Linked DNA regions of Homo sapiens: all the other regions are linked to region 2. The links come from fine-mapping of genetic effects on gene expression. A gene starts in region 2. Each other region holds a variant in brackets. All regions are shown on one strand. Distances are between the middles of the regions.

Region 1 (10,346 bases), 35 kb before region 2:
TGGTCTCAGTATACTTTACCAATAACACCTTTTTATCATTTATGTGTCTCAGGTTCTGACTTTTGCAACTTCCAAAATATGCCTTTTGCCAGTAATAAGTGAGAATTAAAAAAATTACAGCATATTCCTGAAACATCATTTGGGTAGAATAATTTTTTTGTTCCTTTCCATATATCCTTATTGTTGGTTCCTATCCTAATATTTTAAGAAGGAAAGAAATCCTATTGTGCCTAGAATAGGTATAAATATGAACATCTTCAGGCCCCTCTTTACAGACTTTGTTTACTATTCAGTATTGGATATATGGAAAAATAAGCAGAAGAATAGTGAATTAGCTTGTGTTGCATGTCACTAAGGTTGCAAATTTATGAAGTGAATCAGACTTCAGATCCAATACTTGCCAAATACTGCTTGGACAGTTATATTTTGAGCAATTATTTGCCGAAGATATGTCTGCAGAATACACGGATACCTTGGGAAGAGGTATTGATCATTTCAACTCCCCCCAGCCAATTCTGAACAAATGACTGTACATGTTTTTAAGGGAACTGAGCATGTTCCCTAAGGATGCCCCGTAGTTTTTCTGGTCCAGTGTTTCTCTATTCCTGTTATCACAGTCATATTCCAGCTGAGGTAATTCCATCTTAATGTGCCTGTTACCTATCAAAATGGATGTCACAGTACATTTCCCCCACAGGAGACCGCTTCTGTGGGTAAACGAGGCACATATATCTGGATTGTCACACACTCTAGAAATCCCCTGGGTCTTACAAATGCTTCAAATTTATAGCTGCTAGTTTTAGTGTATGTGGGTGTGTGGGTGACTGTCAATCAAACATGGAGCTTAACATTTACTGTGACTTTTTATATTGAAATACAATTTCTTTTCTTCCTCTGTGGTAAGCCCAGAAATGGAGTGGAACAAGTTAATTAAAATATTGGTGGCTTAATACTTTTCAGCCACTGATAGTTTCCAGTCAGCTCTTCTCTGGAACATTCTTTGTCATTGTGAAGCTAATCTGGAGCCAATAGGAAGATTTTTCTAAACATGAAATAATTTCTTCTAAGGTCTTTCTGCCCTCTCTCTTAAAATCTGAAGGAAACAATCTCATGGACTATTCATTAATGCTTTGACCCCTCTGTGCTACCAATAGAATCCGGGGCAGGGTGGGGACATCACATTTTATGAGCACATACACAGAAAACAGCTTTATCAGCAGGGATCAATTTGTCTTTTCCTATGCATTACTATTGAACTCTCTGCCCATCAGCAATCAGCTGACCCCTGAGGAATAAATACCAACAAACTCCTTCATAGGTTTTAAAGTTTATTTTGGGTCCTTGATGTCCTAGAAATAGAAATATACAAGAAGAAATTTATTTGTATGTTGGCTTCTTTGCTCTTGGTGGAATTATTTGAAGAATTATTTTTAAACTAAAATATTTTATTATACAATGAATGAAAATGTAATCACGAAATGTTCCTTTTCCAGAAGTTGCAAACTGGTAGCCCATAGGCCACATCATGCCTGCCCAGATACTTTTGTGGTCTGCCTGTTTTTGTTTTTTTTTTCTTTTTTCTTTTTTTTTTTTAGACAGGGTTTCGTTCTGTCACCCGGGCTGGAGTGCAGTGGTGTGGTCACAGCTCGACTTCGTGGGCACAAGTGAGCCTCCTACCTCAGCCTCGCCAGCAGCTGGGACTACGGGCATGCACAACCACATCCAGCTATTTTTTTTTTCTTTTTACAGATAGGGTCTTGCTATGTTACCCAGGGTGTTCTTGAACTCCTGGCCTCAACTGATTATCCCACCTCAGCCTCCCAAAGCCCTGGGATTACAGGAGAGAGCCACCATGCTCAGTTACATGTTTTTTATTAATTGAATTAGGAACCACTGTATGTGACCTGGAAGTTTCACATAGAAATATGGATTTGGAGATTCTTTTTTAAAAAAAATCTCCCAGTATGGGGTCTGTACTATCCCCAGAGAGGAGCTAGCAGCAACTGTCCCCTCTCTATGAGGCAAGGCTTCCAGTAGCCACCTTTCAAAGGAGAGATGGGATCCCCTTTTATCAGGCATAAATCCTTTAGTTGCCGTCTTTGGGTAGATACGGGCCCTCCAGTTTGCCACAGTTGTTTCCTCCCAATACAAACCACAAATTCTTCTGTAGGCTTACTAGGCTTACCAGAGATACTTGATTTTGTAATCCCTGTTCTTGATGAGAAACTGTGACAAATGCTAATTTGGATTTCTTAAGTAACTTCCTTCCCAAGAAAACAAATTGTTCATTGAGCACCTATCTGTGCCAGGCACTTTTCTTGCCCTGTCTCACGTGATCACCATGACAACTCCAGTAGGTATTTTATAGTCAAGAGAAGTGGAGCTTGAGAGACTCAATAACTTGCCTGGGACTACACAGCTCATAAGTGGGTGAAATAAATTGTATTTCTATTGCCTGGTTCCGAAGCCCAGACTCTTCCACTAAACCTCTCAAACACTTCAGATGGCTCTACACAAAATCTTATTCATTTTACCACATCCCTGTTGAGAGGAAGGAATTGAGTAGGGAGGTCTAAGAGGGAATGGGAAATTTTGATTTTTTTCCCCCTCATTTGCTACATCATCATTTTCTTCTTAGACCTGTAATAACATCATCTACTTTGGTTTTTGAAATTACTCATGACAAGCTGTGAAACCTAACTTACGTGTGGCTTCTGTAGGCTACTACTAGAAAATTGGCATCCACATGGCTGTCATTCCTTCACTGGCTGTATAGTCTCCTCTTCAATTGCTGCACAGCTGTATGGAGCTCAATTTGTAATAAAAGTGGTTTAGTGCAAACCATACATACATAATGGTCTTTGATTTCCCCCTCGGCTTTGAAAATCTCTCTTAATTATCTGCCTGTAGGCTTGGAATTTCTTTGCCAAGTCTATCTTCATTTACTGAAGTGTCTCCAGAGTACTACTTTTAGAGGAATTTCTTCAGAAGTGGAAACTGGCCCTAAGCCCTCATGTTGAAGAAGGTCAGTGTAGCAATAACATTGACTTAAAACTTACTGCAGTAAGGAAGTCCCTTTAAAAAGGCACTCTGTGCCCACTCTGTTAAAAAGAAAAAAAAGTTGTTAAAATAGAAGTGAGGAAGGCAAAGAAGAACAGTATAAAGCCACAGCTGGGAGAAGTAACAATTTAGTTGAGCTGATTCCCTGGTGTGGGGAGGAGGCCTTTCTTCTGTTCTGTGTGCCTCTGAATTCTGCTTACCCCAACACACTTGAACAACTTTGCTGATACCTGCATTAATAATTTCTGTCATCTATTCAGTTATTCATTCAAGCCTTCTCTGAACACCTATGTAAAATGATACTTCTCTATTCTTTTCTATCCCCTTGCCAGGCTTTATTCTCCTCTTGTCACACGTATCACCAGTCCATTATATTGTATGTTCAATTGTTTTATTTTTGTTTCTCTCTGTTACCTAAATGTAGGTCTCTGAGGACAAGGACCTGGCCTGTTTCATTTATTGCTATACCCCTAGCACCTTGTGCATGGCACATAGGAGAAACTCAATAAATATAAGTTATTGAACTTCCACTCTGTATTTAGGATCTAAAAATGAATAAGACATGATTCCCACCTTCCAGGCATTCACAGACTTTTTAGAGACAGATGTAAACATAAATGCCTCTTGCAGTATGAGAACTTGACTGGTATGCATGACTTCAGCAGAAGTGATTTAACTGATTAACTGCTGCACTAGGTGAGTGTGATGATTAATTTTCTGCATTACCTTGAATGGGGCATGGTTTCCCAGATTTCTGGCCAAGCATTATTCTGGATGGGTCTGTGAGTGTTTGGGGATGAGATTAACATTTGAACTGATTGATAGACTGAGGGAATCAGATTGCCCTCCCTGTTGTGGGTGGGCCTCATTTAATCAGTTGAAGGCCTGACTAGAACAAAAGGGCTGACCCTCCCAGGAGTGGGAGGGAACTCCTCTCACCTACTGCCTTGAGCTGGAACATTAGTCCCTTCTGACTTTCAGAATTGGACTGAAACACAAGCTCCTTTTGGGTCTTGAGCCTGGTGGCTTTTGGACCGGAACTACACATTGGCCCTCCTGGGTCTCCAGCTTACTGAATACAGATCTAGGGAGTTTTCAGCTTTTGTAATTGCATGATCCAATTCCTTATAGTGTGTGTATGTGTGTGTGTGTGTGTGTGTGTGTGTGTGTGTCTATATGTATGTCTATATGTATATCCTGTAGACTGATAGGCTATATCTACATATCTGCACATATAGATATATCTATATATCTATAGGCTATATCTACATATACAGATATATCATATTGCTTCTGTTTCTCTGAACCCTGGCTAATACAGTGGGCCAGGCATACAGACTTAAAAGCATCATACCCTGCTTCTGTAAGAGACAGATGCCAACTGGAATTAGAAGTGCAAGTGGTTTACTAAGAGAAGAGCCTGTGAAAGATAAAGGACAAAGTGGAGGGAGCTGGAGGAGGTGGAGGAAGCCTGCAGCCCATGATGCAGCTCTGAGACCTATGAAAGGAGAAACAGAAGAAAGGATTGAGTAGAAAGTGCTTCAGACCAAAGTGCAGTTCTGAGAGTTGTGGCCAGCCTGATGGAGAGTCCCTGAACCAAAGGCACCCATTTGAGGAATCCCCCTTTAGGCAGGAATGGCCCAGCTCTAGCACCCACCACTGTACTCAGTCATTGACTGGGGCAGCCTGGGGAAGTGTGACCTGGAAGTGAACGCTGCAGTCAATCCAAGGTACAACAGCTGAAGACTATGAATCAACTATGCCCCACACAATAGGCCCTCCCACAGGGAGATTCGAACAGGGCACCTTCATGACCCATTCTTCTGGCATGCCCTTCTGAGGCTGGGGGTGGGCTTTCACAAGTTCTGACCATCATAGAATCTCTATGTGGTAAAGATAATATGTTCTTAAAGTGGGGTAGGGGCTCCCTAGGAACCTGTATTGAAGCTTATGTTCTTATTTAGATTGTATATTTACCAAAGCCAATCTTGGAGCCATCTCTGCTCACATGCAAGAGTGGGCCAGGCTGAGGAAGGATGATGGTGGGAATCTAGGAAAAGGAGGGGCCTGGAAGCTGGACTCTTTGTCTCTTCTGCTGAAGCCAGAGACTTGGGAACAGCAGGCACCTGTCATCCCAAGGTGCTGGGATGGGAGGAGGACCTGGTTTTTGAAACCAATGATACATCAATCCATGGGCAAACTTTGGTACCTACACTCTATTTGGCAGACCTCTGGCTGATCTCAGCCCTGCCTTGGATACATTGCAACAGAACTGGGAGAAATATGGCAGAGATCAGCTCTCCTTAGTTGAAACAGAAAATCCCCGAGGATGGGCAGGAAAAGATACTAGATACTAGACTACCTGTTCTTCTGATAAATCATATAATGTTTGCTTGTTAAATGATTATAAATCTAGTTCTTTCTTTTATTCCTCCTTTAGGATCAAAATTTATTACCAATTCAGAAGATTAGTGTGGGCTGGGCTCCCCTGTAAACATTTCCCTCTTTATTATATTTCCCCTACTCTGCAAATTAAGAGAACTGCCACTTAAAGCCTGTAAAAAACAACCCTGTCAGTTAACTCTGATGGAGTCATAGTGATGAAATATTAGCTAGTGCTAGACAGGAGTCTGGAGATCCTTTATTATTACATATAGAAAGAAATGAGTGATTACCCAAGGTCACCTGGCCGACTAACTGCAGAAACAGGCTGGGACCCAGGGCTTTGGTTCTCAGGCCAGAGCTCTGCTCACCATGGCAGCCTTGCTTTCTTCTCTGATTGTACCCGGCTTTTTGTTTGGTTGCTTGGTTGGTTTTGGTACTTTTATGCTAGAGAATACTTGGTTAGCCAAAGATTTTTTCATAACCCCTGTAAAGCATGAATTTCACTTTTTTAGGGAACCACTTTTTCCTCTGGCTAAGAGTTTTGCGCCCCAACTTAATGGGAAAAAAAACAAACATTGTCTTGCTGCAGGAGCCTATAAAAATGCCATTTCTTTGAAAACTGGCAATGGCTAAAGCCTCACATAAACCTCTGAAGGAAGAAAAGGACGGAGAAGCTAAGGTGCACAAATCACCCAGCTTTGTGACTGGTAGAGCTAACACTTGTTTCCTGATGTGGACGGTTCCAACAGCTGCTTGTCTGCAGACTCAGAAACTTCTTTGAACTAGAAGGAA[C/G]TTTGACAATTATCTGTGAGGAAACAGAAAGAACATGTCCCGTGAGCGCCGTCACAGGGCAGAGTCAGAACCGGAACCCACGCCTTCCAACTCTTAGTCAGATGATTGTCTGTGACAGAATATTTGGAAGACTCCAAGGATGAGGCTTTTAATTTCAGACAAGTAAGTGCAAATTAGGAAGTGTATCAAAAGTCAGTGCATCGACTATGATAATCATTGTTTTGCCCTTATTATGTTCCAGGAACTGTTCTAAGGGCTTTACATGGATTGAGTACTTCCTTACACTGGGCTATTAGTCAGCTTTCACCAGGCTGTGTTACAGCAATAACCCCCAAATCTTAGTAGTTTACAATAACAGAGGTTGTAGGTGGTTGTGATGGGTGAGACTCCTCCAAATGGCTTCTTCAGTGCAGGATCAGGGTGAATGAGAAGACCCTATTTGAGATATGTCATTCTTGTGGCAGACAGAAAAGGGCGCAATGGCCCAGAAAGCCTTTGCTCAGTCAGGGCATATGTCATTTCCACTCAAATGCCACTGATCACGGCAAGTCACATGGCCAAGCCTGATGTCAATGAAAGGAACACAGCAAGTCACATGACAGTAGCCAGGGATAATGCAGCAGACTAGCAGACTAAATATTTCTGTTCCCTCAGAATTCATAGGTTAAAATCCTAATCCCTAATGTGATAGTATTAGAAGGTGGGACCTTTGGGAGTTGATCAGGTCATGGGGGTGGGGGCTTCGTGAATGGGATTAGTGCTCTTATTAAAGAGACCCAAGAGATCTCTCTCATCCTCTCTCTGCCATGAGGACACAAGGAGAAGTCATCCTGTCTCTGCCATATGAGGACACAAGGACAGAAGAGGGCCCTCGCCAGAACCCAAGTATGCTGGCATCATGATCTCAGACTTCCAGCTTCCAGAAGTTTAAAAAATAAATGTTTGTTTTTTAAGCCATCCAGTCTATGGCAATTTGCTATAGCAGCCAGAACAGCAGCTAAGACAGATGTGTGTCTGTGTGTGTGTGTGTGTGTCTCTGTGTGTGTGTCTGTGTGTGTGTGTGTCTGTGTGTGTCTGTGTGTGTCAGTGTGTGTGTGCGTCTGCGTGTGTGTCTGTGTGTGTGTCTGTGTGTGTCTGTGTGTGTCTGTGTCTGTGTGTTTGTGTCTGTGTGTGTGTCTGTGTGTCTGTGTCTGTGTGTGTCTGTGTGTGTGTGTCTGTGTGTGTGTCTGTGTGTGTGTGTGTCTGTGTGTGTGTCTGTGTGGGTGTGTGTCTGTGTCTGTCTGTGTGTGTGTGTCTGTGTGTGCCTGTGTGTGTCTTTTGTGTGTGTGTGTGTCTGTGTGTGTCTGTGTGTGTGTGTTTTAACATGAAAGGTAGCAAAATATTTGAAACAATATTGCAATCTACCACAATAAGAATCACCACTTAACATTTATAAGCTCATCTGATCTTCACAACAAAACCTATTAGGTACGTAAAACTATCATCTGTTATCTAAAGCTTATACAACAAATGAGAGACAGAGCTAGTATCTGAACCCAAGCAGTCAGCCTGAAGACTGATCCTTAATCAGCAGGCCATGCTGCTTTTCAAGATTTGCTGCCTCTCATCTGCTAACCCTCTGTCAGACACAGTTCCCTTCTCCCCTACTCCCTCCGCCAACTGGTAAAGTCAGCCAAATGCCTAATGCCGAGACTTCAGCCATCTGTTATTTTTACCTACATTGCCACATTCATTTATTTATTCAAAAATATATATTGAGCATCTGTGGACATGACGTGATACAAAGCAGTAGGCAGAGAGTGGGTACAAAGATACATCAGAAATAGATGATGGGTTCTGTTCCCATGAACCTAGTGAAAATTTATATAACTAAAATAATAAATCATAAACACATATGAACCTACAATTAAATTGCTATGGGAAAGCCAGAAGAATAAGCAAATTATTCTGGTGAAGGAGCTCTAGAAAAAGATGGGAGAGAGACATTTAGTTGTCTTTGAAGGATAGATGGAGTATGAAGGTGGGCAGATGGAAGGGAAGGAGAGGAATGCATGAATATAGGGCGTGAGGACATGTGGTGGGGCCACAGAACCATTAGTTCCAGGCCACATTCAGGAGGGCCCACAGAAAAGTTTATACCCTGACTCAGTAATGCATACATTGGCAATGCTAAAGACGTCCTATGTCACCCTATTTTAAACTATTCCAGTACTGGATCACACTGCCTGTGATGACTAGGAATGAGTATTTTTATAGACCCTGTAATTATCTTTGAATAGCACAATTATGTGACATTGTGTTTTGTAGACACTAAAAGCATTAATTTGATAAATGTTACCTTTGAAAATATATCAAATTTTTCAAATCTTGTTTTGGCTTTTCTTCATTTCTAAAAAATATACCAGCAGCTTCAAAAAAAGAAAGCAGATTTCATGTCTTTCAATGTCTTTACAGTAAAACACGGTGGGAAGAAAATACAATAATTTTGGCTGCAAAAAAATCATTCAGTTCATACTTCAACAAATATTTAATGAGCACTTAGTATAAACAGGGCCTTATTCTAGGTGTTGGGGATGTTGCAGTGAAGAAAGGGTACACATTTCTGTCGTCATGGCATCTGCATTCTGCTGAGTATATAAAAGAAGTAGTGAGAACTGAAAAGCTAAGTTGTGCATTTGTGGAGGAACCAGACCTTGACTGCCAGGCTAACTAGTAGGCAGCAGACAGTGGGGAGTCATTGAAAGTTTTCTGCAGAGACATGATGAAAGCTAGCCTTTAGGGGGTTAATCGGGCAGCACTACGGTAGGTGGAGGTGAACTAGAAAAAGGACTTGGGTGGAGGAAGGGGCATTCAGAAAGCAGTTTATGCCATGCAGAAGCAGTTCACGGTGTCCAGCAGATGCAAAACTGGTCCTGAAGTCAGGTAGGCAGAGTGAATGCAAAGGTTGGACAAGATGTAAAAGATCCCCATGAGATAGAACAGCAGGGGAAGAATTCCTCATTGTGTGAATGTGAAACCAAGGGAAAAAAGAAAATCAAAGTTCCTGTGTACTCATCTCTGGTAAGGGCAAGGTGGTTTAGCCCAGAGTGGGCTTTGGCATCAGATGACCCTAGCTTCAAAGTCTGGTCTGACATTTAACAGCTGTGAAACTTTGGGCAGGTTGGTCAATCTCTCTGAGCTTCAGTTACCCCATCTGTAAAAGTAAAAAATAATTCCTAACTGCAGGATTAAATAAGATAATAAGTGTAAATCACAGAACACAGACAGCTCCCAGTAGCTTTTTACTGTGATTATTATAGTTACATGGAAGATGAACTGCCTTGGGGGATGCATTTGAAGTAACTGCTGGACATCCAGAGGGAGATGTTGAGCATTTTCTGTGCTGAACACTTGACAAACCTCATCTCAGTTTGTCACGACAAGCCTTTGAGGAAGATATGGTTGTCATTACTATTTTACAAATGAAGAGAATGAGATTTAGTTAACTAAACTTAGCCCAGCCTAAGCAGCTAGTGAGGTGCAGAACTCAGGTCCCCCGACTCCAAAGCCCATACTCTTAAAACATTCAAGGTTCGGAGCAAACCCAGAAGAGCCACTTGATTTAGTTTAAAAACTCTCACTTTCCCTGGCCACCCATCCTCAAACGCCTCCCACAGGCACCACTTGGCTGGCCCTGATTCTCCTGCGTGCTTGTGAAGGAATGAGTTCAGTCTGAAGGGAGCCACCCTGCCCATCTCAGCAGCCTCTTTTGGTAGATTAGAACAGATTTTGCTGTTTCTGCTCAGATACTTATTAGTTAGCATAATCACGGTCATAGACAGTCGGCTCTTTTGGCCCTGGTCAGGTAGTCATTGTCCTTCCAGATTTGCTATGTCCTATCTCTGGTAATATTCACCAAGCTTCCTGGGGCTGGGAGTTAACATGATTGAAACACACCAACCCAGGAGTCAAGACCCAGGTTCATTTTAGGCCTTTATCACTTACTACCTGTTCGATTTGGGGAAAGTTTCTTGTCCTTTTTGAGCTTCTTTCTCTTCTTCATTTGCAAAGCAGAGATAATGACCCCAGGTTCAAACCAATCAACAAGGAAATGAAGACAATCTGCAGAA
Region 2 (10,085 bases):
GGTCTGAGAGACTGTTATGATTTCCGTTCTTTTGGATTTGCTGAGGAGTGTTTTACTTCCAATCATGTGGTCAATACTAGAATAAGTGCGATGAGGTGCTGAGAAGAATGTATATTCTGTTGATTCGGGGTGGAGAGTTCTATAAATTCTATTAGGTCCACTTGGTCCAAGCTGAGTTCAAGTCCTGAATATCCTTGTTAATTTTCTGTCTGGTTGATCTTTCTAATATTGACAGTGGGGTGTTAAAGTCTCCCACTATTATTGTGTGGGAGTCTAAGTCTCTTTGTAGGTCTCTAAGAACTTGCTTTATGAATCTGGGTGCTCCTGTATTGGGTGCATATATATTTAGAATAGTCAGTTCTTCTCCCTGCATTGATCCGTTTACCAATACGTTATGCCCTTCTTTGTCTCTTTTGATCTTTGTTGGTATAAAGTCTGTTTTATCAGAGATTAGGATTGCAACTCCTGCTTTTTCTTTTTGTTTTCCATTTGCTTGATAGATCTTCCTCCATCCCTTTATTTTGAGCCTGTGTGTGTCTCTGCACGTGAGATGGGTCTCCTGAATACAGTACCCTGTTGGGTCTTGACTCCTTTTCCAATTTGCCAGTCTGTGTCTTTTAATCAGGGCATGTAGCCTGTTTACATTTAAGGTTAATATTGTTATGTGTGAATTTGATCCTGTCATTATGATGCTGGCTGGTTGTTTTGCCCTTTAGTTGTTGCAGTTTCTTCACAGTATTGGTGTTCTTTACAATTTGGTATGTTTTTGCAGTGGCTGGTACTGGTTGTTCCTTTCCATGTTTAGTGCTTCCTTCAGGAGCTCTTGTAAGGCAGGCCTGGAGTGACAAAATCTCTCAGCATTTGCTTGTCTATAGAGGATTTTATTTCTCCTTCGCTTATGAAGCTTAGTTTGGCTGGATGTGAAATTCTGGGTTGAAAATTATTTTCTTTAAGAATGTTGAGGCTGGGCACGGTGGCTCACGCCTGTAATCCCAGCACTCTGGGAGGCTGAGGTGGGTGGATCACTGGAGGTCAGGAGTTCGAGACCAGCCTGGCCAACATAGTGAAACCCCATCTTTACTAAAAATACAAAAAAAAATTAGCTGGGTGTGGTGGCACAGGCCTATAATCCCAGCTACCTGGGAGGCTGAGGCAGGAGAATTGCTTGAACCTGGGAGGTGGAGGCTGCAGTGAGCTGAGATCATGCCACTGCACTCCAGCCTGGGTGACAAAGCGAGACTCCATCTAAAAAAAAAAAATGTTGAATATTGGTCCCCACTCTCTTCTGGCTTGTAGGGTTTCTGCAGAGAGATCTGCTGTTAGTCTGATGGGCTTCCCTTTGTGGGTAACCCGACCTTTCTCTCTGGTTGCCCTTAACATTTTTTCCTTTATTTCAACCTTGGTGAATCTGATAAGTATGTGTCTTGGGGTTGCTCTTCTCGAGGAGTATCTTTGTGGTGTCTCTGTATTTCCTGAATTTGAATGTTGGCCTGCCTTGCTAGGTTGAGGAAGTTCTCCTGGATAATATCCTGCAGAGTGTTTTCCAACTTGATTCCATTCTCCTAGTCACTTTCAGGTACACCAATCAAACGTAGATTTGGTCTTTTCACATAGTCCCATATTTCTTGGAGGCTTTGTGTGTTCTTTTTATTCTTTTTTCTCTAATCTTGTCTTCTCTCTTTATTTCATTAAGTTGATCTCCAGTCTCTGATATCCTTTCTTCTACTTGATGGATTTGGCTATTGATACTTGTGTATGCTTCACAAAGTTCTCATCCTGTGTTTTTCAGCTCTGTCACATCATTTATGTTTTTCTCTACACTGGTTATTCTAGTTAGCAATTCATCTAACCTTTTCTCCAGGTTCTTGGCTTTCTTGCACTGGGTCAGACCATGCTCCTTTAGCACAGAGGAGTTTATTATCCACTTTCTGAAGCCTACTTCTGTCAATTCGTCAAATTCATTCTCCATTCAGTTTTGTTCCCTTGCTGGTGAGGAGCTGTGATCCTTTGGATGAGAAGAGGTGTTCTGGATTTGGAATTTTCAGCCTTTTTTGCACTGGTTTTTCCTCATCTTTGTGGATTTATCTACCTTTGGTCCTTGACGTCGGTGATGTTCGGATGGGGTTTTTCAGTGGACGTGCTATTCCTGGTTTTTAGTTTTCCTTCTGACACGCCCCTCTGCTGCTGGTTTGCTGGAGTTTGCTGGAGGTCCACTCCCGACCCTGTTTACCTGGATATCACAGTGGAGGCTGCAGAACAGCAAAGACTGATCTTTCCTCTGGAAGCTTTGTCCCAGAGGGGCACCTGCCAGATGCCAGCCAGAGCTCTCCTGTAGGAGGTGTCTGTCAGCCCCTACTGGGAGGTGTCCCCCAGTCAGGATACACGAGGGTCAGGGACCCTCTTGAGGAGGCAGTCTGACCCTTAGCAGAGCTTGAACGCTGTGCTGGGAGATCTGCTGTTCTCTTCAGAGCTGTCAGGCAGACGTTTAAGACTACTGAAGCTGCGCCCACAACCGCCCCTTTCCCCAGGTGCTCTGTTCCAGGGAGGCGGGCGTTTTATCTATAAGTCCCTGACTGGGGCTGCTGCCTTTTTTCAGAGATGCCCTGCCCAGAGAAGGGAAATTTGGCAGTCTGGCCACAGCAGGCTTGCTGAGCTGCAGTAGGCTCTGCCCGGTTCCAACTTCCCAGAGGCTTTGTTTACACTGTGAGTGTAAAACTGCCTACTCAAGCCTCAACAATGGTGGATGCCCCTCCTCCCACCAAGCTCGAGTGTCCTGGGTTGATCTCAGACTGCTGCTGTGCTGGCAGTGAGAATTTCAAGCCAGTGGATCTTAGTTTGCTGGGCTCCATTGGGGTGGGACCGGCTGAGCCAGACCACTTGGCTCCCTGGCTTCAGCAACCCTTTCTAGGAGAGTGAACGGTTCTGTCTCGCTGGTGTTCCAGGCGCCACTGGGGTATGGAAAAAAAAAGAACTCCTGTAGCTAGTTCGGTGTCTGCCCAAATGGCCACCCAGTTTTGTGCTTGAAACCCAGGGCCCTGGTGGGGTAGGCACTGGAAGGAATCTCCTGGTTTGTGGGTTGCGAAAACTGGCACAAGCACAGTATCTGTGCTGGAGTTCCTCAGGCTCAGTCCCTCATGGTTTCCCTTGGGTAGAGGAGAAAATTCCCCAACCCCTTGCACTTCTCGGGTGAGGCGATGCCCCACCGTGCTTCAGCTCACTCCCCGTGGGCTGCACCCACTGTCCAACCAGTCCCAGTGAGATGAACTGGGTACCTCAGTTGGAAATGCAGAAGTCACATGCTTTCTGTGTGAATCTCGCTACGAGCTGCAGACTGGAGCTGTTCCTATTCAGCCATCTTGCCAGCAATCCCCTGCAACTCTTAATTTCTGGCTACAGGATCAGTAATGTCAAGGGTGTAAGTGACTGGCCCAATGTCATATGGCTCGTTTGTTACAGAATCGGGATGCAAAAACTGAGCTTGAAAAATCAACCAACCAGTACAACCACAACAGCAGGGCAGGGCCACCCAGCCTCTGTGTTTCACTCTGCATGGCTGGCCCACCAAGTTCCCTTGGCCTTATGGCTTCTCATTTAAACTGCAGAGAAGCTATGGTTAAGTCAAAGGCTCAAGTAGGTTAGAGTGAATTACTGAATCAGAGGAGTCCTATTTACACAAAGGAGGGAAGGAGTATCATAAAGAGGAAGAAAAGTAAAAGGAGGCATAAATGAAGAAAATGAAAGAGGAATCCGCTAAGAATAGACAAAGTGAGCGTCAAAATGACTCCACCCCAGGAAGGAGAGGGGGAGGGACCCATGGAGCAGGAGGGAAAAGGATTCCTCCCCCTCAGTAATCTTAATTATAACAGTATAGGACAGGTATGAATAGTGTTGTTTTATATATGAGAAAACTGAAGCTCAGAAAAGCTGTATCACTTACTCAAGGAAATACAGTTGGTAAGAGTCTCCTAATTCTGTAAATTTTTTCTTTTCATAGGTCTCTTTCTTCCCTTGTTTCCATCATTATTTCCCTCTGGCCTCCTTTTATGTGTACAAAGTGAAGTACGGAGGTTTTTACCTTTTTTCTGAAATAGTTATCAAATATCCCATGATGGAGTGAGTACGTGGTTACCATGACAACACAGCCCTCACTGAGGACTAGCCTCCCTGCTTTGCCTCCGGAATCATGTTTCACGGAACAGGTTCCTCTCCGTGCAACTTCTAGCAGCTGTAATTCTACATTTTGTTTGGGTGATTATTTGCTGAATGTCTGTCCTCCACTAGACTATGTAAGTTTCACAATGGCAGAGACCAGCCTACTTTGCCAAGTGTGCCCCCAGCGTTTTGCACAGTGCTTAGCACCAGGATCTATGTGTTATTTGCTAAGCAAATGTTCTGTGGTTCCTCTCCGCTCTCTTCTGAAAGTTACATGGACAGTAACCTTTAGCTCACAATTATGTTAATAAATACTGTGTAACGAGTCGGGCCGGTATTTACAGATAGTATACACGTGAATGAACACACACACACTCACGACTGCACAACAGCCCGGGGCAGGTGCACTCAAGAGGAAACGCGCACAGTCGGAGCCAGCCTGACCAACGCTGTTAAACACCGCTGCGCTGGGCTCCGCGGGCCTCTGCCGCGTGGGAGGGCACCCAGGCTGACGCGCTGCGGGAGTCTGGGGCCCACTGGGACTTGCCTGCCGGGCCGGGTGGCGGCGGCGTGGGCGGTGAGCTGCGCGGTGATTGGCCCGCGCCTGCCGGGGCGGGGCGGGGCTGGCAGCGGGAGGCAGGCGCCTGAGCCAAGGGGGGCGTGCGCGGCGGCGGCTGCCGTAGTTTCAGTATAAACAAGGAACCCGACTGGTTAGACAGATTTTGTTTTTCTTCTTCCCGCGCGCTTTAGCTCCCTGTCCTTTGGTCGCATTTGTGGGCGCGCGGCACGCAGCCGGGAGGCCGAGGACTCGGAGTTCACCTGCAGGTAGGTTGTTCCCTGGCTGGGTTGTTCTCCCGGCTGGGGGACCACAGCCCGGAGCGGGAACTCCGGACCCTACTGCGCGCTGCGCTCTCCCTGGAGATCCCTGGGCCGCGCGGGGAGCGAGCGGGGCTCAGAGACTTCACCGGCTGCCGGGTGCGCTCCGAGGCGGCGGGAGATCCCGAGGCGAGTGAGCGCGAACGCGGGCGCCAAGAGCCGAGTTACAGCCCGGGACCGGGGGAGGGCCCCTGCCCGGCCGCTGCGGGTACCTGGGACTGCCGCGGCCCCAACAGGTGCGAGGCCGAGCCGCTGGGACCCGGGCAGGGCCAGGCTTGGGTTGGGTTGGGTTGTGCCTTCCCTCTTTCTCCCTGATCCTGCAGCCAGGCCTTCTGTCTCGAGATAGGTGGTTTTTGAGGATTTGTCTTGAGTTGTAATCGCGTCCATCATTTTTTTCATCCCTTCTTTCCTTCGTGTGCATACCTAGGTTGATTCTTCCACTTCTTGACCAGTTTTGTGTGCGTGTGTGTGTAGGGGGAGCTGTTTATTTTTGTTGTCAGTGCCATGTAATCTAAAGTCTGACTCGTAGGAAGGGACAAGGGAACAGAAGTCACATACTCGCCACCGACAAGGTGATGTGCTGTCATCCTTCGGTGTTCACCTGGCAAACTTGGGAGACACTGAGTCGCCTTGCTTTTGCCAGAGCTCAGTTGAGTCGCCTCGGGTCACCTGCCTGGGGAATCTCAGATGAGCTAGAGGTATCTAGGAGCCTCGCGGGCAGTCAGCTTAAGGGAGGTTCTTTCTAAGGGAGCTGTGAAAACAACTTAAGTGCTGCACCAGGGAAAAGGGCGAGACGGGGGCTGGGGTGCGCGCGCCTTTGTGTGTGTGTATGGACGTACCATTTCAATACTGCTTGCTGTCTTGCCCCAACCAAATCGGCGCAGTTCAGGCAAAAGCAACGTAGCTTAATCCTCTGACACTGCCGAGGGTGGCACAAGTGTGGCAGATAACACAAGGAGATTGTCTAGACGGCGATTTTCTCTTCGGAATGTAGATGTGTCCATCCTCCCTGATGAATTCGGTGGATATGGTGTATATAGATGAATATGCACACAAATTTGTGTATGTGTTTGGGCCGAACGCGTCTCCAAGGAGTCCTTCGTCAGCACCATGTGACGACGGTCAGGAACTGCTGGTGTGTGTAGATCTATATTTAGCTCAGATGGTCTAATGGCCGAAGGGAGGGTCTCTGAACTGGGTGCATAAAGGGGAAGAGTCTAGGGATCAGGGTGGTGCACTCTTGAATGATGTCTGGCACAGTCACACTCAGATGGGGTGAATAATTGCCCTTTCCTCGTGAAAACAGTAGCTAGAGCTTGGCATGTGATGGCTATGCCTTAATTTAAAACATAGTTGGACCATGGCGATAAGCCTCTGCTAAGAAACAAGGAGGTTTACAGTTAAGCAGCGTATATACCTGGTTGGCCGTTTGGGTGAAAATAACTGGTCCCATGAGATTTAGAACAAATATAGAGTTGCTTTCTTTAATAAAAAGAAATAAAAATTATTTGCTGTTGAGGTTTTCATAACAGAAAAAAAGAAGGCAGCTTGTTAAACCCTATCATTAAAGGTAATTTTATTTTTTTAAGTGAGGGGCAGTGGTGGAGCTAGAGAGGAGGACCTTAGGGCACTTTTGACAGATATCAGGGTTTACAAACAGCGTTATATTATGCCTCTCAAGCAGATTTTCTGGTGAAGATGAGATCAGCCACTGATTAACAAGTTTCTTGTTGGCATTCTTCCACTGCATGTCGGGTCAATCCTTTGTTTTCTTGGAGGTGGGCAACATTTCTAACTACTAAGCATATTGGCCTTGTACTTTCCAGTTGTCTAACGAAGTGTTACATTCTTAGAATTTATTTCTCCTATGGTGCATTTTCAGTCTTGCTTCATTTTATGTGCTCCACTGGATATTTTATCTGATACTAACACATCTAATACCTGGGAATCATACTGTCTTTTGGAGAAGAGAATCACCAGAAAGCATTCCCATGTATTGTCTCCCGCTAACCCCCTACAGCTTAGCATCTAATAGATTATTTATATGTGTGTGTGTGTGTGTGTATATATACACATATATGTACATATATACATATGTATTTATATGTATAACTAAATCAAAGTATTATAATAACACATAGTTCTTATATAACATTTTATTCTTAGAACCTAAAATTAACTACTAGTTAATAGAGTACAATAGACTATATAAAAACAATTCAATACACCTTTCTAAGGAAAAAGACATGGTAAGAAAATTGAAGGGGAGGAGCTGGGATCCCTAGTATGACTCAGGAGTGTTGGGATCAGCTTTGTCAATATCCGCAGAGTACCTGGAAGAATTGGACTTGGGAGGAACATTGGGATAGCCCCAGGAGAGCACCTCCTTGGAAAGGAGATGGGTGAATGGAATGTCTTTTTCTTTGCTTGGGAGAAGAATCTAGAATCCTTGAAGCAGGGATTGGGAAACTTGATTCTGATGCCACACATAATAAATGAAAAAGCTGTGAAAACATTTTGTGACTTCTTAAAGAGGCCAATTGCACTGTTAAAAATGCTGTTTAAGATTTATGGGATTTTTATTAGTAGTAGTTGAATTCAGGTATTGCCAGCCCACCCCCCTCACTTTTTCAGACCTATAGTTGTCCTTTTTGATTCTCCAGTTAAAACTACAAAAAAGATCCATGCAACCTTTGCTTATCCTAAAGTGACAGATGTTATAGCCTAGTGCTGTGGCATATTTCTGCCTTGGAAATAAGGAGACTTGGGTTCTGGTTGATCTGGAGCCCTAATCAGTGATTTATTTTTTCTCTATGCCTGCAGTGTCTATAAAACGACTGTGGGGAGTTGAACAGAATGATTTATGAGTTTCTTTAGGTCTGTCATAACTGCTTTATTTTGTTGTACTATCGCTTCATGCATTTACACCCTGTCTTAGAGGTGGACTAATGAAGGGACAAGTGATTTGCAGTTAGGTGTTCACCTACTTTCTGGGTACATGGAAATGAAGAGAGGAGAGTGAAATTTCTTTTTTATTTATGAATTCATGTAGAAATTTAATATTAAACTGCTTTTTGCTTTGTTTTTCTTTAGGTATGAATATTAAAAATGATTATCAAAAAGATTGGTGTCAGATTATTTTTTGGCCTATTAAATCAATATTACTATCCACTAAATTTTTAAATTTGTCTTCAACAATCATTTTTTCTTAGGTTTATATTTATTATTTCATTTCAGGATATGCCTATGTCTGGAAATCATTCAGTTGATTCAAACTTTATTAGGAAACCCTGCTTAGAAAATTAGTTTAACCCAGAGAAAGTACAAATTAGCCTGGACTACCAATATCTTTCTATTGATCTAAAAGAGAAAAATGGGAAGGGATGAATATAGTTTTTCAAAAACTCACAGCTGGAAAATTATCCCAGTAACCATGTTATATACTAAAATATAAATAGAAAACTCTACTTTTTAATAAACATCCTCATTAGGTATCAGATCATTTTCCTGAGATGAATTAGGTGTAGAAAAATAAAACCTTTCATTAAAGAATGTTCTCCACATGCTATTATCTAATTTGGGTTGAGATCTACCTTGTATAAATGATGATTCAGCTACTCATATCTGTGCTGTTCAGTATGGTAGCCACTAGTCATATGGGAATATTTAAACTTAAGTTTATTTAAATTAAACAAAATTTAAAATTTAGTTTTTCAGTTGCAATAAGCCACATTTTAAGTGCTAAGTAAGTCACTTGTGGCTAGTGGCTGCTGTATTGGATTGTGCAAAAGAAAAACATTTTCAGTATCCCAGAAAGTTCTTTTTGACAGCACTCAATTAGGTAATGATGATTTTGATTATCCAGAAGATCATTTTTATTCTTCCAGGAAAATGAAATATTTAATTCTCATTATAGATGAGCACCTACAATGTAAGGCATTATGACCAAATGGCATTATTAGCCAGTACGTCTTCACCTGTACAGTATGAGCTGTATAGTTCAATAATATGCCAAGATCACAAATACCAGTTTCTCAATATATTTTCCCCATAACTCTAGTTATCCTTTTGCTTTTCTAAACCAGCACTGTTACTGCTACAAAGTGCCAACTCTTTGAAAGACAAGGAACGAGGAGCCATCTACTGTCCGGTTTAGGAACTGCATGGAAGATGTAGCTAAAAAGTTAATGCATAAAGAATGTATGCATTACATTCTTTACATTCAATATGTCCTGGGTTCAGTTCCCACACAGTAAAGATTTATTTCATAGAAGAGTTTTAATTGACTCTCCAGGTTATGTGCCGAAATGTCATTTGTGGTTTAATAAACTGCTAACAACACATCCCCAAGACAAAAGATGACAAATCTTAGCTTTGTTTTTCTTCCAAGGAAACCAAAGATAGTAAACTATTTGAGTCAGAATCCCCTTCCTCCAACAATTAGGAATTAGTATGAAATATTTAAGCAGCATCTAAGACAAATCAAGCAGAATGGAAATTAACTTTTTGTATGGATGCTGATAAATCAGGAAATAATATCACTGTTTCATTGCGAGAGAAATAGGATCTTCCTTCCTCAAAAATACTGATTTTTTTTTCCTCCCTTAACTGTGAAATCTACTAAGCATGTGGGACTCACTTTCAAAGAAGGTACTTATCTTGGAGTCTTGGAGTTTCTGTCTGTTCACATACCAAAGAAGTGAGTTGACTCTGAGTTGTCTTCTCTGTGTTGTTTGCCCTCTCAATACAATACCTTTTTTTTCTTTTTTTTTTTTTTTTTTAAGGAGGTAAGCAGAGGTGTAGCATTTCTGCAGTTTCCAGAGATGCTGTTAGAAATCTCTGATTTAGGACGTCTTCTGACTGAGGACAGAAATGGGAAGATAATCTGGAAATTTTCTTTCTTTCTTTCTTTCTTTCTTTCTTTCTTTCTTTCTTTCTTTCTTTCTTTTTTTTTTTTTTTGACATGGAGGCTTGCTCTGTCGCCCAGGCTGGAGTGCAGTGGCGCGTTCTCAGCTCACTGCAACCTCTGTCTTCCAGGTTCAAACAATTCTCCTGCC
Region 3 (10,346 bases), 250 kb before region 2:
TACTGTGTTGAATAAAAGTGATTAAAGTGGGCGTTCTTGTCTCATTCCAGATTTCAGAGGAAAGGCTTTCAGTGTTTTCCCCATTCAGTATGACACTAACTGTGGGTTTATTGTATGTGGCTTTTATCATGTTGAGGTATGTTCTTTCTATACCCAGTTGTCTGAGAGATTTTATCATGAAGGATGTTGAACTTTATTGGATGCCTTTTCAGCGTTTAATGAAATGATCGTATGGTGTTTGTTTGTTATGGGACAGGGTCTCAGTCTGTTATCTGGGCTAGAGTGGAGTGGTGTGATCACAACTCACGACAACCTTGACTTACTGGTTTCAAGCAGGGCTCCCACCTCAGCCTCCAAGTATCTGGGACTACAGGCATGCACCACCATGCCTGGCTAATTTTTGTATTTTTTTTCTAGACACAAAGTTTGAAACCAAGCTGGTTTCAAACTCCTGGGTTCAAGTGATCTGCCTGACTTGATATCCCAAAGTGCTGTTACTACAGGCATGAGTCATTGCACCCGGTCGATCATATGTTTTTTGTCCTTTATTCTATTGATATGATGTGTCACGTTGATTGATCTGCTTATGTTGAACCATCCTTGCATCCTTGGGATGAATCCCACTTGATCATGATGAATGATGTTTTCACTGTGTTGCTCAATTTAGTTTGCTAGTATTTTGTTGAGGATGTTTGCATCTATGTTCATCAGGGATATTGACCTCTAGTTTTCTTTTATTGTTGTGCTTTTGTCTGGTTTTGGTATTAAGGTAATACCAACCTTGTAGAATGAGTTTGGATAGATTTCCCTCCTCCTCGATTTTTTTTTGAATAGTTTGAGTAGGATTGGTGTAAGTAATTCTTTAAATGTTTGTTAGAATTCAGTGGTGAAGCCATAAAATCCTGGGCTTTACTTTGATGGGAGACTTTTTTTATTATTGCTTGTATCTCATTACTTGTTATTTGTCTATTCAGGTTTTGGATTTCTTTATGGTTCAATCTTGGTAGGTTGTATGTGTCTAGGAATTTATCCATTTCTTATAGACATTCCCATGTATTGGCATATAGTTTCTCATAATAGTCTGTAATGATACTTCAAATTTCTGTGGTATCAGTTATAATGTCTTTCTTTTCATTTCGATTTTATTTACTTGGGTCTGCTCTCTTTTTTTCGTAGTTAATCTTGCTAAAGGTTTGTCAAGTTTGCTTATGTTTTCAAAAAAACAATTTTTCATTTTGTGGGTGTTTAGTATTTTTTTAGTCTCAATTTTATTTATTTTTACTCTGATCTTTATTTCTTTATTTCTAATGATTTTGAATTTGGTTTGCTCTTGCTTTTCTAGTTCTTCATTAAGGTGCATTATTAGGTTGTTTATTTAAAGCTTTTCTCCCTTTTTGATGTAGATGTTTATTGCTATAAGCTTCCCTCTTACCTCTGCTTTTGCTATATCCCATAGATTTTGGTACATTGTGTTTTCATTTTTCATTTGATTCAAAAAATTTTTTAAATTTTCTTTTTAATTTCTTCATTGACCTAATGGTTGTTCAGGATCATATTATTTGATTTCCATGTGTTTATACAGTTTCCAAAGTTCCACTTGTTATTGATTTCTAGTTTGGTTTTATCATATTTAGAAAACATACTTGGTATGATTTTATTTGTTTTGAATTTTTTTAGACTCGTTTTGTGGCTTAACATATGATCTATCCTTGAGAATGTTCAATGTACCAATGAGAAGAATGAATATTTTGTAGCTATTGGATGAAATATTCTGTAAATAGCTATTAGGTTCATTTGGTCCATAGTGTAGATAAAGTTCAGCGTTTCTTTGTTGATTTTCTGTATATATGATTATCCAATGCTGAAAGTTGGGTGTTGAAATTCTCAGCTAATTTTGCATTGGGGTATATGCCTCTCTTTAGCTTTAATAATATTTGCTTTGTATATCTGAGTGCTCCAGCATTTGACTTATATATAATTAGAACTGTTATATCTTCTTGCCGAATTGGCCCCTTTATCATTTAATAATGACCTTGTCTCTTTTTACAGTTTTGGTCTGGAAATATATTTTATGTGATATAAATGTAGAGCTACTTTTGCTGTTTTCTGGTTTACATTTGTATGAAATATTTTTTCCCACCTTTTATTTTCAGTCTATGCATGTCTTTATAGGTGGAGTGATTTTCTTGTAGGCAACATATGGTTGAGTCCTATTTTTATCCATTCAGCCACTCTGTCTTTGGATGGGAAAATATAGTTCATTTACATTCAATGTTATCATTGAAGGTAAGGACTTCACTATTGCCATTTTCTTTTCTGGTTGTTTTGTTGGTCCTCTTCCTTTCTTTCTTCCTTCTTGTCTTCCTTTGTGTAACAGTGATTTTCTCTGGTAGTATTTTTTTAATTTCTTGCTTTTTATTTTTTGTGTATCTACCATAGGTTTAAGTCTTGTGGTTGCCACAAGGCTTACAAATAACATCTTATAACCAATTATTTTAAGCTGATGACAACTTAACTCTGCTTACAAACAAGCAAAGAGAAAACTGAAACACTCCACATTTTAATTCCTATCCTGCTTTTAGACTTTTTCTTGTCTCTTTTTATGTCTTTTATGTTGTCTATCACTTAAAAAGCAGTCATAGTTGTTATTTTTGGTAGGTTTATCTTTTACTCTTCTTGCTGAAGTGCTTTCTTTTATGGATAATTGTTCAATTTGGTGTTCCTGTGGGGAGACAATTGCTAGAGAGTATTTTTCAGCCATCTTGCTCCACCCCTACATATTATTTTATATAATAAATATAATAATATAATCGCTTTATATTTTTGCCTCATCTGTTTGATCACAGCCTCCTTGGGGGCAAGGAAAGTTCAGGTTCTAAGTCTAGTGTTTTTTTTTTTTCTATATTACATTTACCCTACCATTTCACATATGTCATGGACCTTGGATTTTAAAACACAGAATGTCCTTCTGTTATTGATAATAATTACCAGCTTTATTATATAGTAAAGGTTACTTAATGTGTCCTTCGTCTCTATGAAAGGGAGTATTTATAATTTTTTTAATGAGATAACCACCTCATTGCATTTTAATTGCCAGGGATCCTCTGTTTGTAAAAGTCAACATCAAAAGAAGATATCTTATAGTTATAATTGCTCCTTGGCAGAAAGGTTACCACGGATGCTGGAGAACATTCATGGTTAATTTTGTAAAACCATGGCTAATGGGACAAATCACTCAGCCATGGAGACTGTGCAAGCTGAAAGAATATAAAGAGCTGCAAAGGGAGAAGCAGGTTATGGGCTCTGTCCCTGGGCTTCCGAGAGGTTCATGTCAAAGAGAAAGCAGGCAGATGTGACTCACTCAGTCAGCTGTGGGTGGTGGTGGCCTCAGCTGTCACAGCTGGGCTGACATCAGCAACATGTGATTGATATCAGTGCAAAGGCAGCTCCCAGCCAGCCAGGAGTGTGTGGCAGGAACAACCAGGGCTTGAATCCTGTGAACAACCAGGGCTTGAAAGTCTTCTGTTGGGGACAACAAATAGGAGCAGTGAACCCTCTCTTGCCTCCCAAAGTCTGACTAGGCTCAGGGACTTGGAGAGTTCATCTCAGAGGTGTTGTGACTTGTCCTAGATGACACAGAACATTAGAGGTCAGGCTGGGACTAGCAACTGGATCATCAAACTCCCAGGCCAATGCTGTCTTCATAGACCGCCCAGAAAAGGAAGACATGAGCAGATTTTTAAGAAGTTGTAAAATCAGGTTAAAATCAACCTGACACTTGAACAGCTTGCTTCTTCAAAACAAAAAAATGGTCTTTCAGGTATTCAGTAACTGCAGTGATTTGACACAGCAGCTTATCATTATTTCCTAGAGGTGATTCTTGTAGTTTAACCCAGAGAAATATTTCAGTAGTGCAGTCATCATGTATTTGCTGATCTTTATTGATGTATAAGAAACAACAGCAGTGATACATGCAAAAAGGAGATTTAATTGGGGAATCTTTTCCCATGTAAGCAACACTGTGCCATTCAAACAAGAAGCAGTAGTGCATAATTAAATCTATAATCATTGAAAAAATCATTTTAAAAGATAATAAACAGCTTGAATTTGGTAAACACTTCACTTATTCAAAATACTTTGATGAATTCTATCTCATTTGATCTTCACAGCTACTTCTGTATAACTTAGGAGAAAGTAGTAGTCACCTATTTTGTAGATGAAGAATCTGAAACCAGAGCACCTTGGCAATTTGCCCACAATTACACAGCGGTTACTACTAGAGCCAGGACTAGAATCTTGATTCTTTATTTAGTGCTTTTGTGTAATAAAGTTCACAATGTCCTATCTGAAATTTTGAAATACAAACAATAGCCTAAGTTTATTTATTTTTTTCTTTTCTAACTTATTTGATGGTAAAACTACCTGTTCTGAATGACTTTTGGTAACAAAACCTGTTTTGAGATGACAGGAAGCTCTGTGTTGTTCTCTTTAGGGAGAAGATTCATGTTTCAGAGCAGAAATGTTAATGCGTTCAGTTACAGGATGCTGCCCCAGACCAGTGTGTTCTGTTTGTTATATGAACCATATTGTCTTTCTAAAGTCCAAAAATTTTCTGAATTCAAAAGCGCATCTGAACAGAAGAGCTTTGGATAATAATTGAAGTAGACTGCCTGTGTCTTCTTCTAGTGAGGAAATGAGATGTTTACATTAATTAGATATTCTGGTTTATAGTCACCATAGGTACAATATGTGTATTGCTAATATTGAACAAATGAGACTGTGATGAAATCCCCTTAATATTGACTCAGCAGTTGTTGTGAGGGTTAAATAAAATAATTCAGGCAAATCAATTGGCATAGTGTCTGGTTCATAGGACATATTTCATAACTAGAGTGTTAACTGCTATCTTTCTTAATAAACTTTGTATCCTCGTATCACAGATGAGGAAATGGTAATAGGCAGAGAGGTTAAGTAACGTGCCCGAGGCCACACAGCTAGTAAATGACACCACCAGAACTGGACACCCAGGCTACCTCTCACACTCAAAGCATATGTATAACCAGTAGGGTATATATTTTCTTGGATCTTTCAAGAGGCTGTAGAAATCCTTCCAGATCATCATTATGAAAATTAATTACCAAATCATTGGACTGTAGCATGTGGAAGTGCTGTTTAATAGCCTGCTGGTTAGGCCAGATTTTGCTGGCTAAGGAGAGAGAGGGGGAGAGGGAGAGAGGGGAAAAGGAAGAGGAAGGGAGAAAGAGACAGAGAAGGATTAAACTAATAGAAAATACCTTACAAATGAAAAAATTGGAATGAGCATAGAGCAATTGGGAAATCTCTATTCTAGAGAATTATTACCAGTTCAGTCACTCCCTTGGATGGATTGAATGAAGTCTTTCTGGGAATTAGATCAAAGAGAAAGCACTCTCAGGGCTTTTCCCAAAATTCTGTGGATCAGGTTGATGAAACTTATGGTTGGGGGAAAATAATTTTGTGTTTAGATAATGAGAATTTCCTCCACTCCCACCCATTCCTGGCTTTTCTCCCTGTGGCTTTTTTGCCTACTTGGTTTCCTTACTCTGAACCTAGGAACTATCTTTTTTTAACCATGCTTTGGAGGGGAGTGCCTGCCCTTTGAAGGTGGGGGAGGCAGGTGGGCCCAGAGAGGAGAGGGCAAGCACAGAAGGCAGCAACACAGGAGATGAGAGGAGAGCAACGTTTGCCTCAAAAATGGATTCTGATCCCGAAGCAGCTTTCCTGCGACTACCCCCGTCCCAGA[C/T]GGTGAGAGGAGAACTTGAGAGCCTGGTGCTTGTGGTCTGTCAGAACAGGCTGGCAAGAAAGTGAGCCCCTGGGAAGCTAAGCCTGACATTAAAAGGACTCGGTCTATCCTGTTGGCAGCTGCTGCAGCTCACCCTTGTGCGGTGTGGCCTCAGCGCATGTCTGGCTTTATTTGCTATTTGGGGCGCGGCACTTGAAAGGTGCCCCCTCCCCCAGACTCCTTGACATTTGTCCAGAGATTAATTGAGCTAATCCCCTTCTTGGAAGAATAGGTTGGGAAGTCTGTGTTCAGGGAGGGTAGGGAGGCAGGCTGGGACTGAAGAGGCATGCATTAATAAGGGTGCTAGGGCTTGCTGGACCCTTTGAAGGAAGAAAAGCAAATTTCTCTGCTGTTCCTGGACGAGGCTGACAGGTGGGCAGGGAGACTGCAGTTTCTGTGTTTCGCCTGGCTTTGCCAGAAGGTCTGTGCGCACCAGCAATAACGACTCTTGACAGCACCAGCTGTCACTCAGGGATGAATTACTCCCAGGACACCTTGGCCTGCCATTCTCATCTCTTGTACTAAGGGCAGAAGGTGAGAGCCCCAAGACAGGCTATCCTGACAGGGGAGGCACATATTACTTGAATACTTGTCTGGGATGGTTAGAAAAAGTGCATTTAAATTTTGTTTTGAATTAGACATTAAAATTAAACATCATTTATTATTTTGTATTTTTGATGGAGGGACGAAGACAGGGGAACATGAACATTGTTTTCTTATGCTGTGTGCAACTGTCCATATTTTGGGAGGGGACACAAAGCTTTTCACCTTACCGTACAATAATCATAGCTAGAATTGGCAGGGTACTATCATTTCTGCCTGTAATCCCAGCATTTTGGGAGGCCAACGTGGGAGGATCATTAGAAGCCAGGAGTTCAAAACCAGCCTGGGCAACATAGGGTGTGTCTCTACAAAAAATAAAATAAACTTAGCCAGATGTGGTGGCATGTACTTATAGTCCTAGATACTTGGGAGGCTAAGGTGGGAGGATCACTTAAGCCCAGAAGTTTGAGGCTGCAGTGAGCAGAGATTGTGCTACTACACTCTGGCCTGGGTGACAGAGTAAGACCTTGTCTCTAAAAATAGTAGTAACAACAATAGCTAGCATTTATTGAGTTGTTGTGTTCTAAGCATTTTATATGTATTAATTCTTCTTTCTTTTTAAACTATACTGTAAGTTCTGGGATACATGTGCAGAACATGCAGGTTTGTCACATAGGTATACTCGTGCCATGGTGGTGTGCTGCACCCATCAACCTGTCATTTACATTAGGTATTTATCCTAATGCTATCCCTCCCCTAGCCCCCCACCCCTCAACAGGCCCCAGTGCGTGATGTTTCCCTCCCTGTGTCCATGTGTTCTCATTGTTCAACTCCCACTTATGAGTGAGAAGATGCGGTGTTTGGTTTTCTGTTCTCATGTTACTTTGCTTAGAATGATGATTTCCAGCTTCATCCGTGTTCCTGCAAAGCACATGAACTCATTCTTTTTTATGGCTGCTTAGTATTCCATGGTGTATATGTGCCACATTTTCTTTATCCAGTCTATAATTGATGGGCATTTGGGTTGGTTCCAAGTCTTTGCTATTGTGAATGGTGCTGCAATAAACATACGTGTGTGTGTGTGTTTTTATAGTAGAATGATTTATAATCCTTTGGGTATATACCCAGTAATGGGATTGCTGGGTCAAATGGTATTTCTGGTTCTAGATCCTCGAGAAATTGCCACATTGTCTTCCACAATGGTTGAACTAATTTACATTCTCACCAACAGTATAAAAGCATTCCTATTTCTCCACATCCTCTCCAGCATCTGTTGTTTCCTGACTTTTTAATGATCGCCATTCTAACTGGCGTGAGATGGTATCTTATTGTGGTTTTGATTTGCATTTCTCTAATGACCAGTGATGATGAATTTTTTTCATATGTTTCTTGGCTGCATAAATGTCTTCTTTTGAGAAATGTCTGTTCATATCCTTTGCCCACTTTTTGATGGTTTTTTGTTTGTTTGTTTTTGTTGTTGTTTTTGTTTTGAGAGAAGTCTCGCTCTTGTCCCCTGGGCTTGAGTGCAATGGCTCGATCTCAGCTCATTGCAACCTCCACCTCCCGGGTTCAAATGATTCTCCTGCCTCTACCTCCCAAGTAGCTGGGATTAAGGCACCTGCCACCATGCCCAGCTAATTTTTGTATTTTTTAGTAGAGACAGGGTTTCACCATATTGGCCAGGCTGGTCTCAAACTCCTGACCTCAGGTGATCTGCCCGCCTCAGCCTCCCAAAGTGCTGGAATTATAGGCGTGAGCCACTGTTCCTCGACTGTTTGTTTGTTTTTTTCTTGTAAATTTGTTTAAGTTCCTTGTAGATTCTGGGTATTAGCCCTTTGTCCGATGGATAAATTGCAGAAATTTTCTCCCATTCTGTAGGTTGCCTGTTCACTCTGATGATAGTTTCTTTTGCTGTCCAGAAGCTCCTAGTTTAATTAGATCCCATTTGTCAATTTTGGGTTTTGTTGCCATTGCTTTTGGTGTTTTAGTCATGAACTCTTTGTCCATGCCTATGTCCTAGGTTTTCTTCCAGGGTTTTTATGGTGTTAGGTCTTACATTTAAGTATTTAATCCGTCTTGAGTTGCTTTTTGTATAAGGTGTAAGGAAGGGGTCCACTTTCAGTTTTCTGCATATGGCCAGCCAGTATTCCCAACACCATTTATTAAATAGGGAATCATTTCCCCATTGCTTGTTTTTGTCAGATTTGTTAAAGATTAGATGGTTGTAGATGTGTAGCATTATTTCTGAGGCCTCTATACTGTACCATTGGTCTATATATCTGTTTGGGTACCAGTACCATGGTGTTTTTGTTACTATAGCCTTGTAGTGTAGCTTGAAGTCAGGTATCATGATGCCTCCAGCTCTGTTCTTTTTGCTTAGGATTTTCTTGGCTATACGGGCTCTTTTTTTGGTTTCATATGAAATTTAAAGTAGTTTTTTCTAATTCTGTGAAAAAAGTCAGTCGTATCTTGATGGGGATAGCATTGAATCTAAAAATTACTTTGGGCAGTATGGCCATTTTCACGATATTGATTCTTCCTATCCGTGAGCATGGAATGTTTTTCCATTTGTTTCTGTCCTCTCTTATTTCCTTGAGCAGTGGTTTGTAGTTCTCCTTGAAGAGGTCCTTCACATCCCTTGTAAGTTGTATTCCTAGATATTTTATTCTCTTTTTAGCAATTGTGAGTGGGAGTTCACTCATGATTTGGCTCTCTGTTTGTCTGTTATTGGTGTATAGGAATGCTTGTGATTTTTGCACATTGATTTTGTATTCTGAGACTTTGCTGAAGTTGCTTATCAGCTTAAGGAGTTTTGGGGCTGAGATGATGGGGTTTTTAAATATACAATCATGTCATCTGCAAGCAGAGACAATGTGACTTCCTCTCTTCCCATTTGAATACCCTTTATTTCTTTCTCTTGCCTGATTTCCCTAGCCAGAACTTCCAATACTATGTTGAATAGGAGTGGTGAGAGAGGGCATCCTTGTCTTGTGCTGGTTTTTGAAGGGAATGCTTCCAGCTTTTGCCCATTCAGTATGATATTGGTTGTGGGTCTGACATAAATATCTCTTATTATTTTGAGATATGTTCCATCAATACCTAGTTTATTGAGAGTGTTTAGCATGAAAGGGTGTTGAATTTTATCAAAGGCCTTTTCTGCATCCATTAAGATAATCATGTGGTTTTTGTCATTGGTTCTGTTTATGTGATGGATTATGTTTATTGATTTGCATATGTTGACCCAGCCCTGCATCCCAGGGATGAAGCCGATTTGATTGTGGTGAATAAGCTTTTTGATGTGCTGCTGGATTCAGTTTGCCAGTATTTTCTTGAGGATTTTCGCATCGATGTTCAACAGGGATATTGGCCTGAAATTTTCTTTTTTTGTTGTGTCTCTGACAGGTTTTGGTATCAGAATGATGCTGGCCTCATAAAATGAGTTAGGGAGGAGTCCTTCTTTTGCTATTGTTGGGAATAGTTTCAGAAGGAATGATACCAGTTCCTCTTTGTACTTCTGGTCGAATTTGGCTGTGAATCTGTCTTGTCCTGGGTGTTTTTTTTTTTTTTGGTTGGTAGGCTATTAATTACTGCCTCAATTTCAGAACTTGTTATTGGTCTGTTCAGTGGTTCAACTTCTTCCTGATTTAGTCGTGGGAGGGTGTATGTGTCCAGGAATCCATTTGTTCTAGATTTTCTAGTTTATTTGCATAGAGGTGCTTATAATATTCTCTGATGGTACTTTGTATTTCTGTGGGATCAGTGGTGATCTCTTCTTTATCATTTTTTATTATGTCTATTTGATTCTTCTCTCTTTTCTTTATTAGTCTGGCTAGTGGTCTGTTTTGTTAATCTTTTCAAAAAACCAGCTCCTGGATTCATTGGTTTTTTGAAGGGTTTTCTGTGTCTGTATCTCCTTCAGTTCTTCTCTGATCTTATTTATTCCTTGTCTTCTACTAGTTTTTGAATTTGTTTGCTCTTGCTT

What was found. PIP is the estimated chance that this variant, and not a neighbour inherited with it, causes the effect.
Region 1: its variant is fine-mapped to the expression of RASGEF1B in whole blood (GTEx, PIP above 0.99).
Region 3: its variant is fine-mapped to the expression of RASGEF1B in cerebellar hemisphere (GTEx, PIP above 0.99).

The regions. Positions count from the first base shown.
Region 1 is chr4:81,501,304-81,511,649 of GRCh38, reverse strand. It overlaps LOC105377306 (a long non-coding RNA gene), which reads right to left. Exons shown (of 3, transcript XR_938933.3): 3 at 10,213-10,338. Among named protein-coding and RNA genes, the nearest start is that of RASGEF1B, 35 kb to the right of the region's middle. RefSeq lists a silencer at 6,147-6,266. The variant C/G (reference allele first, on the strand shown) is at 6,238.
Region 2 is chr4:81,466,662-81,476,746 of GRCh38, reverse strand. RASGEF1B (RasGEF domain family member 1B) reads left to right here and starts at 4,840. Exons shown (of 14, transcript NM_152545.3): 1 at 4,840-4,977. RefSeq lists a silencer at 4,499-4,908.
Region 3 is chr4:81,718,294-81,728,639 of GRCh38, reverse strand. No RefSeq gene overlaps it. Among named protein-coding and RNA genes, the nearest start is that of RASGEF1B, 250 kb to the right of the region's middle. The variant C/T (reference allele first, on the strand shown) is at 5,783.